Linked DNA regions of Homo sapiens: region 2 is linked to region 1. Evidence: fine-mapped expression QTL. Tissue or cell type: whole blood. Region 1 holds a variant in brackets; the other region holds the start of a gene. All regions are shown on one strand. Distances are from middle to middle.

Region 1 (5,209 bases):
GTATTGGCCATTTATTTTCAAAGAGTTTAACAACAACAATAAAAATGAAGTGTGTTCCAGTGTCTAAATATACACAAATAAATGCACACAAATATGACAAAGTACCAGAAACCAATGATCTAGGTGAAGGATATGCAGGGATTTACTGAATAACCCCCACGCTTCCCATATTTTTCCAATGGTTTGAAATTTTTCAAAGTAAGTAGTTGGGGACAAAATTCTAGGGTAGCTAAGATATTTACATATAATCTATACAAGAGAGACTGTCATGGGTTACTCAGTCACAAATTCCACTAGTGACTTTTTTTTTTTTTTTTTTTTTTTTTTTGAGACAGAGTCTTGCTCTGTCACCCAGGCCGGAATGCAGTGGTATAATCTCAGCTCACTGCAACCTCTGCCTCCCAGGCTCAAGCGATTCTTGTGCCTCAGCCTCCCGAGTAGCTGGGATCACGGGCATGCGCCACCACGCTCAGCTAATTGTTGTATTTTTGGTAGATATGGGGTTTTTTCATGTTGATCAGGCTGGTCTCAAACTCCTGGCCTCAAGTGATCCACCTGCCTTGGCCTCCCAAAGTGCTGGGATTACAGGTGTGAGCCACCGCAGACAGCCACACTAGTCACTTTTATTATAATGAAAAATAAGCATTGATTTTTATAAGCAAGCTCCCCATTTACTGCTTGTTTCATTTCTTTTTTCCTGTTCTACTTAAAATTTAAAAAGGGCATAGCAAGATGAAAACACAACCTTGAGCTTCACTTTCTTTATGTCTGGGTAAATTTTTTTTTAATATGGTAGCCATTTTAACTTTTCTTTTCTTTTTTTTTTTTTTAAGATGGGGTCTCGCTATGTTGCCCAGGCTGGACTCAAACTTCTGGGCTGAATTAATCTTCTCACCTCAGCCTCTCCGGTAGCTGGAGTACAGGTATGTACCACCGTGCCTGGCTTCTTTCACCTTTCTAAATAGTGAATCTTTTTTGATTCATGACAGGCATGAAGTCTGTCTGAAAGCTCCAGCTTTGCTCACATAATGCACAAGTTAACATGAAAATAACATGTAAGTGCCCACTGTGGGCTCAGCACGGGAGGCTGCAGGCAAGGGTCTGGGCTCTGCTGTTGGGAGGTGAGCACAGAAACCAAATAGGACAGTTAGAGTGGCACTGAGTGTCTTTGGGGTCCAGAGAAAGAAGGAATTAGCGGGGGCTGAGGCAGACTCGCATCTTGCTTCAGGAGTTTGCTGGACGCAAAATGATGGACGGCGCTGTCAACCAAGTAAGCTGATTTCTACTACAAAGTCATTTTCACCCATCTTGGATGCAAACTGGTAAGGAGCTTTACAACACATCTATTTCCCACACTTAAACTTATGTTAAACTTTCCCATCTCCAACTCACACGTCACTGGTATTCAACCTTTATTAGAAAGTCACAACTAAAGCTGGTCAACACCCTTAATCATCACAGCTTGCTCCCCGCCAGAGCCCATTCAAACAGCCCCACATCACTCACCTTGGGCGCACAGTCCATGATGCCTGTTCCCTTCATGTCGGTGATGTGGAGCAGCTCCCCTGAGCTCTGCAGCTAGTATCTCCAGCTTCAGAGGCAGATTGTGCAATGTCACTGCATGCTTCTGGCTGGTTCTCAGAAACTGAATTCTATGGAGCTATCTGACAACACATGGGAAACGATCAAAAAGACTCTCCCAGCAGGCAAACTTTCTGGAAAGCACGATAAGAGTAAAATGAAAGCAGTGAAGCAGGGGAGGACCAGAAATACAAGCCACACTCACGTCTCAATGCCTGACGTCTCACTTTGTCTGTAAGTAGAGACTGTCACTCATTTGCTATGTGAAACCACAAAAGAAGAAGAAGAAGAAAAAAACACCACTCTTCTGCTTTATAGGGCGAAGTTCCTACTTCGAAGAGCTCAGTGTATGAACACACAGCATTCTTGTCCTTTGAACTCTGTGGAACAACTCCAACCGAACAGACCAAGCTCATTTCCCTGATGAGAGGCCACTAGGCCAAATTTCTGATAGCGGTCAGCATTTCTTCCTTCCTGCTCCCTAAAACTTGCCTTATGACAGCCAGGATAAAAGCAGTCAAACAGGCTGCCTTAAAGGACACAGTCTCCACTCTACCCACCCTGTCAGTTGTGCATTCACCCTGCTCGGAACCCCATGCTCATCTCCTGGTCTTTGCTCATGGTACCTAATGAATAACATCTTCTGGGTACTGGCTCTGCACTGAGGGCTATGCTGAGCCCCGCACCTGTATTCTCTCTCTTAAATCAAATAAACTTATCGTGTGTGTTGTACTTGAAACCCCTGCTAGCTCATGCAGTTTATCATCACTTGCCAACTCTTTTTACTTTTCCTAAATTCAGATCCAATCTCTAGAGAGGACCTACAGCATAGCAGACACTGAGCAAAATAAGTCTGCATTTTTTTTTTTTTTTGAGACGGAGTCTTTCTCTGTCACTCAGGTGGGAGCGCAGTGGCGCAATCTCGGCTCACTGCAACCTCCACCTCCCGGGTTCAAGTGATTCTCCTGCCTCAGCCTCCAGAGCAGCTGGGATTACAGGCACCCGCCACCACGCCTGGCTAATTTTTGTATTTTCAGTAGAGACAGGACTTCACCATGTTGGCCAGGCTGGTCTCAAACTCCTGACCTCAAGTGATCCAC[C/T]CACCTCAGCCTCTCAAAATGCTGGGATTACAGGCGTGAGCCACAACGCCTGGCCCCGGCCTGCATTTTTATTTAGACAAAATGGTGCCCATTCTTCCAAGCCAGGCTCAAGTTCTATCCCCAACCAGCTGTGGGGGATAGCTTACCGCTATCTTCTTGTCAGACAGCATTTTTTAATTTTTTATTTTTAAATTTTCTTTTCTTTTACCACACCTCTGAGGCAAGTTCAACAGATAGCACTTAGCGTCTTGTCCTCTGGTTGTCCCATGTGTCGTCCCCACAAGTCTGGGCACCAGGATGTATTTACCCATTGAAGTAGCTGACTGATTTCTGGCTGAGACAGTCCACATTTTTAAATGTTATCATTGTTAGAAATTAACTTCAGGGCCAAGTAATTGGCATGCTGCAGGCGATAGCAGATAACAGGGAGGGAACAATGACCCCACGCAATGAACAGTTTGGTTCAAGGAGGAGATCCATAGAGATATTAAGATATAAATTATATTAATAATAATATATTAATATTATATTAAGATATAATTCAGGTACCATAAAATTCACCTTTATTTATTTATTTTTTTTGAGACGGAGTCTTGCTCTGTCACCAGGCTGGAGTGCAGTGGTGTAATCTCGGCTCACTGCAACCTCCACCTCCAGGTTTCAAGAGATTCTCCTGCCTCAGCCTCCCAAGTAGCTGGGATTATAGGTGCGTGCCACCATGCCCGGCTAATTTTTTTGTATTTTAGTAGAGACAGGGTTTCACCATGTTGGCCAGGATGGTCTTGATCTCCTGACCTCGTCATTCACCTGCCTTAGCCTCCCAAAGTGCTGGGATTATAGGTGTGAGCCACCGCACCTGGCCAATGCACCTTTTTGAAGTATACAATTCAGTGGTTTTTAGTACATTCAGAGTTGTGCAACCACCATTTCAAAAAGTAATCCTCTTTCAATTCCTGGACATTTACCCCATTAGCAGTTACTTGTTCTTCCCCCAGCCCCTGGAAACCACTGTTTCTGCTGTATTGTTGACTTTTATGTCTGAAATTCTCTGTAATGAAAAGGAAGGATGGATAAACTTGCCCAAGGTCACAGAGTAAAGTAACAGACCCAGAAACTGAATTCAAGTCTCTTAGAAAAGACTCCACAGTAACTCAAGTTCAGATGGTTTCCATCAACTTGGCAGACTCCCGGCAGTGATTCTTCCCTATACTGAAGAGCCTGCCCTTAAGCTCATAATACAGATCAGAATGCTATAATTCACAAGTTGTTTTTTCTAGGGAAAACAACCTCAACTAGAAAAGTAAGACACAAAAGTAATAGGCTTTGGCCCTGAAATTATATCAACTAGCTCCTACATAGATACCTAGTTTGATATTTTGTGAATAAGGAACTTGACCTCTCGGTCTGTTATTTGAGCCCTCTATGGTTTTTCTGAATGAAAGGTGTGAGAAACTGCCTTAGACATTTTGCTGCAATCCATTAGTATTTTAAGGCAAATGAGCCTTTAATGTGGACAAACATTGCAAGAACTATTAGTCTAGGAAACTGGGTGCTTGCATAATATCCGGTTGTCTGAAGGCTGAAACAGCTGGAGTTCAAGGGAACTACGTCAGAAGGACTCTAGTGAGGTAATCTTAATGCTCTTGGCAAATGTGCTATCAAGAACAGTAGTTTGGACCGAATTTTCTTTTCTGAGACAAGTGAGTCTGACCAATTCACTTCTATAGTGCCTTATACATGCGTAGGGAGGAAAATTGCTTTTGCATGTTTTTCTGTATGCTTTTATGTTGTTTTCATGTGAATATCAAGCTCCCTGACTGGTAGTAGTGAAACACTGGGCACTCGATATTTGAATTATAAAGGACAGCTGAACACCAGACTTACAATGTTCAAAACATTAAAGGCTTGGCGGGAAGTTTCAGGCTGTAATCTCATGAAGATTACTCATAAAAATAGCTCTTTTGACCAAAGCAGAATTTCATGAATTGGCTGGGCAAGACAGCTCAGGTCTGTAATCCCAGAACTTTGGGAGGCTGAGGCAGGCAGATCATTTGAGGCCAGGCCTGGCTAACATGGCGAAGCCCCATCTCTACAAAAAATACAAAAATTGGCCGAGCGTGGTGGTGCATGCCTATAATCCCAGCTACTTGGGAGGCTGAGGCACAAGAATCATTTGAACCCGGGAGGTGGAGGCTGCAGTAGAGTGGAGATCGCACCGCTGCACTCCAGCCTGGGCGAGAGTGAGACTGTCTTAAAGAAAAAAGAAAAAAAAGAATTTCATGAATTGCCCACAAATTCACCAAATATTCTGCTGCAGGGATAATACTGGGAGGGCTGGGGAATCTGCAGCCACTCTAGTTATTAGTGATTAGTTTTATCACCCAAGTTTTGACCCCCAGGTTGGGAGGGAAAAGGAATTAGGGCAAGAATTGAAAACAAGGATGCAAAGGAAATGCTCTGGGGACAGAGTGGGGACAGGAAGCTGGAGGGAAAGGCTGAATGCCGGCAGGAGAGCAAGAAAAAGCCAG
Region 2 (5,130 bases), 57 kb before region 1:
GCAGGGCTGTCCTCATGGAGTTGGGGTAACTCTCCTGGCATGTGGATGTTGTCGGCAACCCAGAAAATCTCCAAACCCTCAACTTCAGGGATCTTTATGGAGACCCCACCACGTAGGCATGATGGATTATTAACTCCATGTCCAATTCCTCTTCTCCTCCCTGAAGGATGGGGGTGAGGTGGGGCTGAAAGTTCCAGGCTTCTAATCTTGGCTTGGTGTTTCTGGTGACCAGGCCCCATCCAGGAGCCCACCAATAATTGCCTTATTAGAACAAAAGATGATCCCGTCACCCAGGAAATTACAAGGAATTTAGGTGCTCTGCGTTAGGAACCAGGGCAGATTTCACAATATTGATCCGAAATGTAAGCTCCACCAGGGCTAGACTCTGCCTTGTTCACTGCTATATCCCTGGGGCCTACAACAATGTATATATGGTAACCACTTATTAAGCATTTGTTGTGTGAATAGTTATAATAAAAATCCATCCTGCCTAGGCATTCTGGCTTTTTTGAATCGCTCTTCCTTCTTTTCTACCCTCTTCCGACACCTGTTTCTTGTCAAGCCTTTCATTAAGCTACTCCTTTTCAGCCCTGGGCACAAGAAAACAAAACTGAGCTAAACACTTTTTTGGTGAAAGCCAAAAAACCACTCATGAATGCTAATTATCCAGCATTCGCCTGTTTACATGTACGTATGATCAGAGGGTACACTTCATCCTCTTGGGTATTCATTCATTCCCATATTCACACATACTTATTAGGTGTCTATTATGTGGCTGACACATGGTAGGGGTTACAGAGGTAAGACACACAAGGTTCCTGTCTACGTGGGAAAGAGACAATAAACAACACAGTGGTAGGCACTGTTAAGAAGAGAAGAGAGAATATTGGAAGTGAGGCACATTTCAGTTACAGTGGACAGATGACATTTGAGTAAAAAACTGAATGAAGTAAAGAAACTCATCATGTGACAATCTCAGTGAAGAGTATTTCAGATTGATGAACTCACACTCCAGGTTGAAGAACAAGAGGCCTGTTTAGCTAGAACAGTATGAAAGAGGTGGAGAGGGGCAGAAGATGAGGTCAGAAACATAGGCAAGGTCTGCTCAAGGGTCTGACGAGATTTTATTCTTAATGTGATGGGAAGCCACTGGAATGCTTCAAATACAATAGTGACTTAAGGGGTTTACCTTTTAAACAAGCTCTCCAGCTCCTGAATCAGAATACATGAAGTCTCCACGTGTGCTTTACAAATATTTTTGTAAAGAAGTCTCTACTAGGTGCTTTACAAATATTTTATCATTAAAAAGTAATTACTTGTGCTAACTTTGAAATCCCAAATAAGTGGATGGGAATCCTGGCTTCACTACCTACCAGCTGTGTGATCTTAGTCACCTTAATATCCCTGGACTCAATGTCCCCGTCAGTAGCAAAGAAATTATTATAATTTCCTCGATTACTTGTGAGATCAGGGATTATTCACTCATTTGTTTATTCGAAATATTTAGTGTGCCAGGAACCATGCTAGTTGCAGAGAAAAAAAGGGTACAGCCTCTGCTATCAGGAACTTACCGTCTAGCGGGGAAGACTTGATACAAATCAACCACGTACAGCCGTGTGCAGGCTAAGACAGTTTATAAAAGGATGTGGTAAGGGAACAGTTTGGGAAGGCTTCTCTGAGCAAATGAAGTTAGTGTATACAAAACTCAGTATACACTAGGTATTTGTATTATTGCTACTAGTCGCAGGTAGGGTTCAAATCCTGGCTCTGCCATTTACTAGCTTTGCAAATTTCTCCTTTTGAGCCTCAACTTCCATGTCTGAAAATGAGGACAACAGTATGTAGCTATAGGGCTATTGTGATAATTACATGAGATACCCCCTGTTAAGATTACTGTCCAGTGAATGGCAATAGTCAGCACCCATTGAATGTCCACTCTTAATACTGTTGTTAATTTTGAGTCCTCTGAATGGAATAAAAGACCGCAGCCAGGTCTGGAACTCCGCTGGCTCCCCCTTCTTACTTCCTCTCGTTTTCTGGGGTCGTCAAATTCCCACCACCCCCGGTCGCCAAGAGCCGGCCCACATCACTGACCTTCTCAACCTTCTTCGGCCCCTTCACCAGTTCATGCCTCTTGGGGATTGTTCCCCCGTCGCAACCCATCGCAGGACGGGAGTCAGAGCCAGCAGCAAACCCCCAAAGCTGTCACTTCCGGGATTTCCGGCGAAATCCGCAGCCACTTCCGGCGCACCGCCGTGACGCAGCACGCTGGTCGTGGCGTAGCGGGGCGGGGCGGGGCGGCACGCTAGGCGCGGCGTAGCGGGGCAGGGCGAGGCCGTTACCAAGTGCCGGTTGTCATGGAGAGCGTCGCTTGGAGGCTGGGCGTGGGCGGGTTTCCTCGTTCCCGTGAGACCCTGGGTTTCTGCTGCACAATCGGAATCACTCGCCCACGCTCCGGGAGGGCAGCGAGGGCGTGGGCGGCCCGTGCGCATCCACCGCTCTTTGACCCTATCCCACGCCAGCTTGTGTGGCTGCGGAGCGGGCACATCCCTGGACTGAGAGCGCCTTGAGGAAAAGGGCCGCCCTCCTGTTTCTGCGATTAAGGATGCCTATGAACGGAATCTGCTGTATCAATGGACATTTTTGTGTTTAAAAGGAGAACGCATCTTTCTTGAGCGCCAACTGTGACTCAAGCACTCACAACAAATCTTGTGAAGTGATGTTACAACAGATTCTAGGAAGTAAGACCCTCCCTTAAGGCCTGGAACTTTCTGGTGTTGCCATGCATATTGTAGATGGCATGTGTGTGAAATTTTGCATACAGTTTGTGCGTGTGTGTATTTCATTCACAGTTTCCTGAAGCCCAGGCTAAAAAAATTTTATTAACAATCAAGTATCATTAATAGACGATATAATAGTTCTTATAAAATATACACTGATGTTGCCATGCCCGTTCCAAGAGTCAGGCTGTATTTTATCTATAAGAACACAAATCCCTTGCTAAAAATTCATGATTGTCTGTCTGCTCTTAGGCGATTGTCTATCTCTCTGTTTGTTCCTTTAATTATTATAAATATTATGGGAAAGTGCCTATAATCCCAGCACTTTGGGAGGCCGAGACGGGAGGAGCACCTGAGCCCAGGAGTTCCAGGTCAGCCTGGACAACATGGTGAGACACCATCTTGAAAGAAAAAGAAAAATTAGCCAGGCGTTGTGGTAAGCTTTTGTAGTCCTAGCGGCTCCGGAGGCTGAGGGGGTAGGAAGGATTGCCTGAGCCCAGGAATTCAAGGTTGCAGTGAGCTTATGATTATGCCACTGCACTCCAGCCTAGGCAACAGAGCAAGACTCTGTCATTAATATGTATGTATGTATGTATGTATGTATTTGTACATATATATGATGGGAAAATTTCTCCATTGCCAAGAAGGCAGATCTTTATGATTGGATATTACCCTATTGACCTACGTGAAACATAAAAACGCTGAAAATATTTTTTACTTGGGAAGAGTTGCCCAGAAAATACGTGGATGTGGAAACTTCAAGGGCTATATGTAAGCTTGGGGTACTTGTTACTGTGATTAATGAGAATTTTAAAAAATAATCCCTTTAATTAGTTGGTCTCTGATTGATTTATGATTTATTTCTATGCTAACCACAATAACTGTAAGCTCTATGAGGGTAGGGACTTCATTTTGTTTTGTTTTGTTTTAGACAGAGTCTCGATCTGTTGCCCAGACTGGAGTGCAGTGATGTGATCTCGGCTCACTGCAACCTCAACCTCCCAGGATCAAAGCGATTCTCCTGCTTCAGCCTCCCCAGTCGCTGAGATTACAGGCGCCCGCCACCATGCTGGGCTAATTTTTGTATTTTTAGTAGAGACGGGGCTTCACCGTGATGGCCAGGCTGGTCTCAAACTCCTGATCTCAGGTGATCCACCTGCCTCGGCCTCCCAAAGTGCTGGGATTACAGCCGTGAGCCACCAAGCCCGGCCAGGACTTTTATTCCACATTGTATCATCAGTGCCTAGAAGAGTCTTTGGCACACTCAATATATGAGTACATTTCCTCAGTAAACCAAAAGAAAGTACAGATTCATTGAGAAAGGGGTGAAAAGCCTAGTTTTGGCAGATACTAAAACTGGTTAGTACTATTAGAATTCCATTTACTGGTGAGGAAACAGAAGCGTGGAAAGATCAAATGACTCCTTCAAGGTCACATAGGCAGTGAGAGACCCGGGAATGAGTGCTAGGATTAGTTCTTTCTCACAGCAAAGGAAAGAAAGTCAAATACAGAAGAGCAGAAACACCAGCATCTTTAGAAAGACTCAAACCAGTGTTCTTTTCTCATTTGGGGAAGAAAAAACAAAAATAGCGGCTCTTTATTAAGCCATGACCATGCGTGCACTGAGAGATTTGTAGGCATTTTTTCACTTTGGGCTCACAATAACCTTAAGAGTTAGAAGGTATAATCCCTCTTGTTTTACAAATGAAAACCCCAAGACTCAGATGTGCAAGTTGTCTTTGTTCAGAGTCTCATAGCTGCTGAGTAAAAGGAGTATAAGATGAGGGGCTGTCTCCGATGAGGCCCGTCTGACTTAACTGCTTCCCCAAATGCTGCTGATAAAACCCAGCAGTACCGGCTGTGCTGGTGTTCTAGCTCAGGCAGCTGGACTTTTTTCTCTTCCTCATTGGTTTCCTCTTTTAGAATATTGGTCTCTAGGCTACTCTGTGCCTCAGACTATACGCAGCTAGAACTTTTGTGAGGTTTATTATCATTGGTAGCAAATATGTGTTGAGAGCTGGCTGCCATGTCAGGTGCTGTGTTCAGCGCTTTATTGGACTTGAGCCGTTTTATTCTCCCGGCTCTACTGGGAAGCAGATGTCATCATTGTCTGCTTCTTCTTCCACTGCCTTGTTGAATGAACTAATAAAGGTTATTCCCTTACAAGCATCTTCGGAGACAACTTTGTCCTAGCCAAGCCATGGATTTTTGGGGAAGCAGAGGAATGAAATGATAAAAAGGAAAATCATTACCCTCTAGTAAAACCAGTATTTCTTAACCTTTTGGGAGTCATTGGACCTGTTTGAGAATTTGATGAAAACTTTGAACTAAATCTCCAGAAAAGTATTGA

Evidence for each region. PIP is the estimated chance that this variant, and not a neighbour inherited with it, causes the effect.
Region 2: it holds the start of RTF2, and the variant in region 1 is fine-mapped to the expression of RTF2 in whole blood (INTERVAL, PIP above 0.99).

Annotation. Positions count from the first base shown.
Region 1 is chr20:56,408,792-56,414,000 of GRCh38, reverse strand. It overlaps CASS4 (Cas scaffold protein family member 4), which reads right to left and starts at 1,741. Exons shown (of 6, transcript NM_020356.4): 1 at 1,507-1,741. The coding sequence starts at 1,542. The variant C/T (reference allele first, on the strand shown) is at 2,682.
Region 2 is chr20:56,465,731-56,470,860 of GRCh38, reverse strand. It overlaps RTF2 (replication termination factor 2), which reads right to left and starts at 2,234. Exons shown (of 9, transcript NM_016407.5): 1 at 2,095-2,234. The coding sequence starts at 2,163.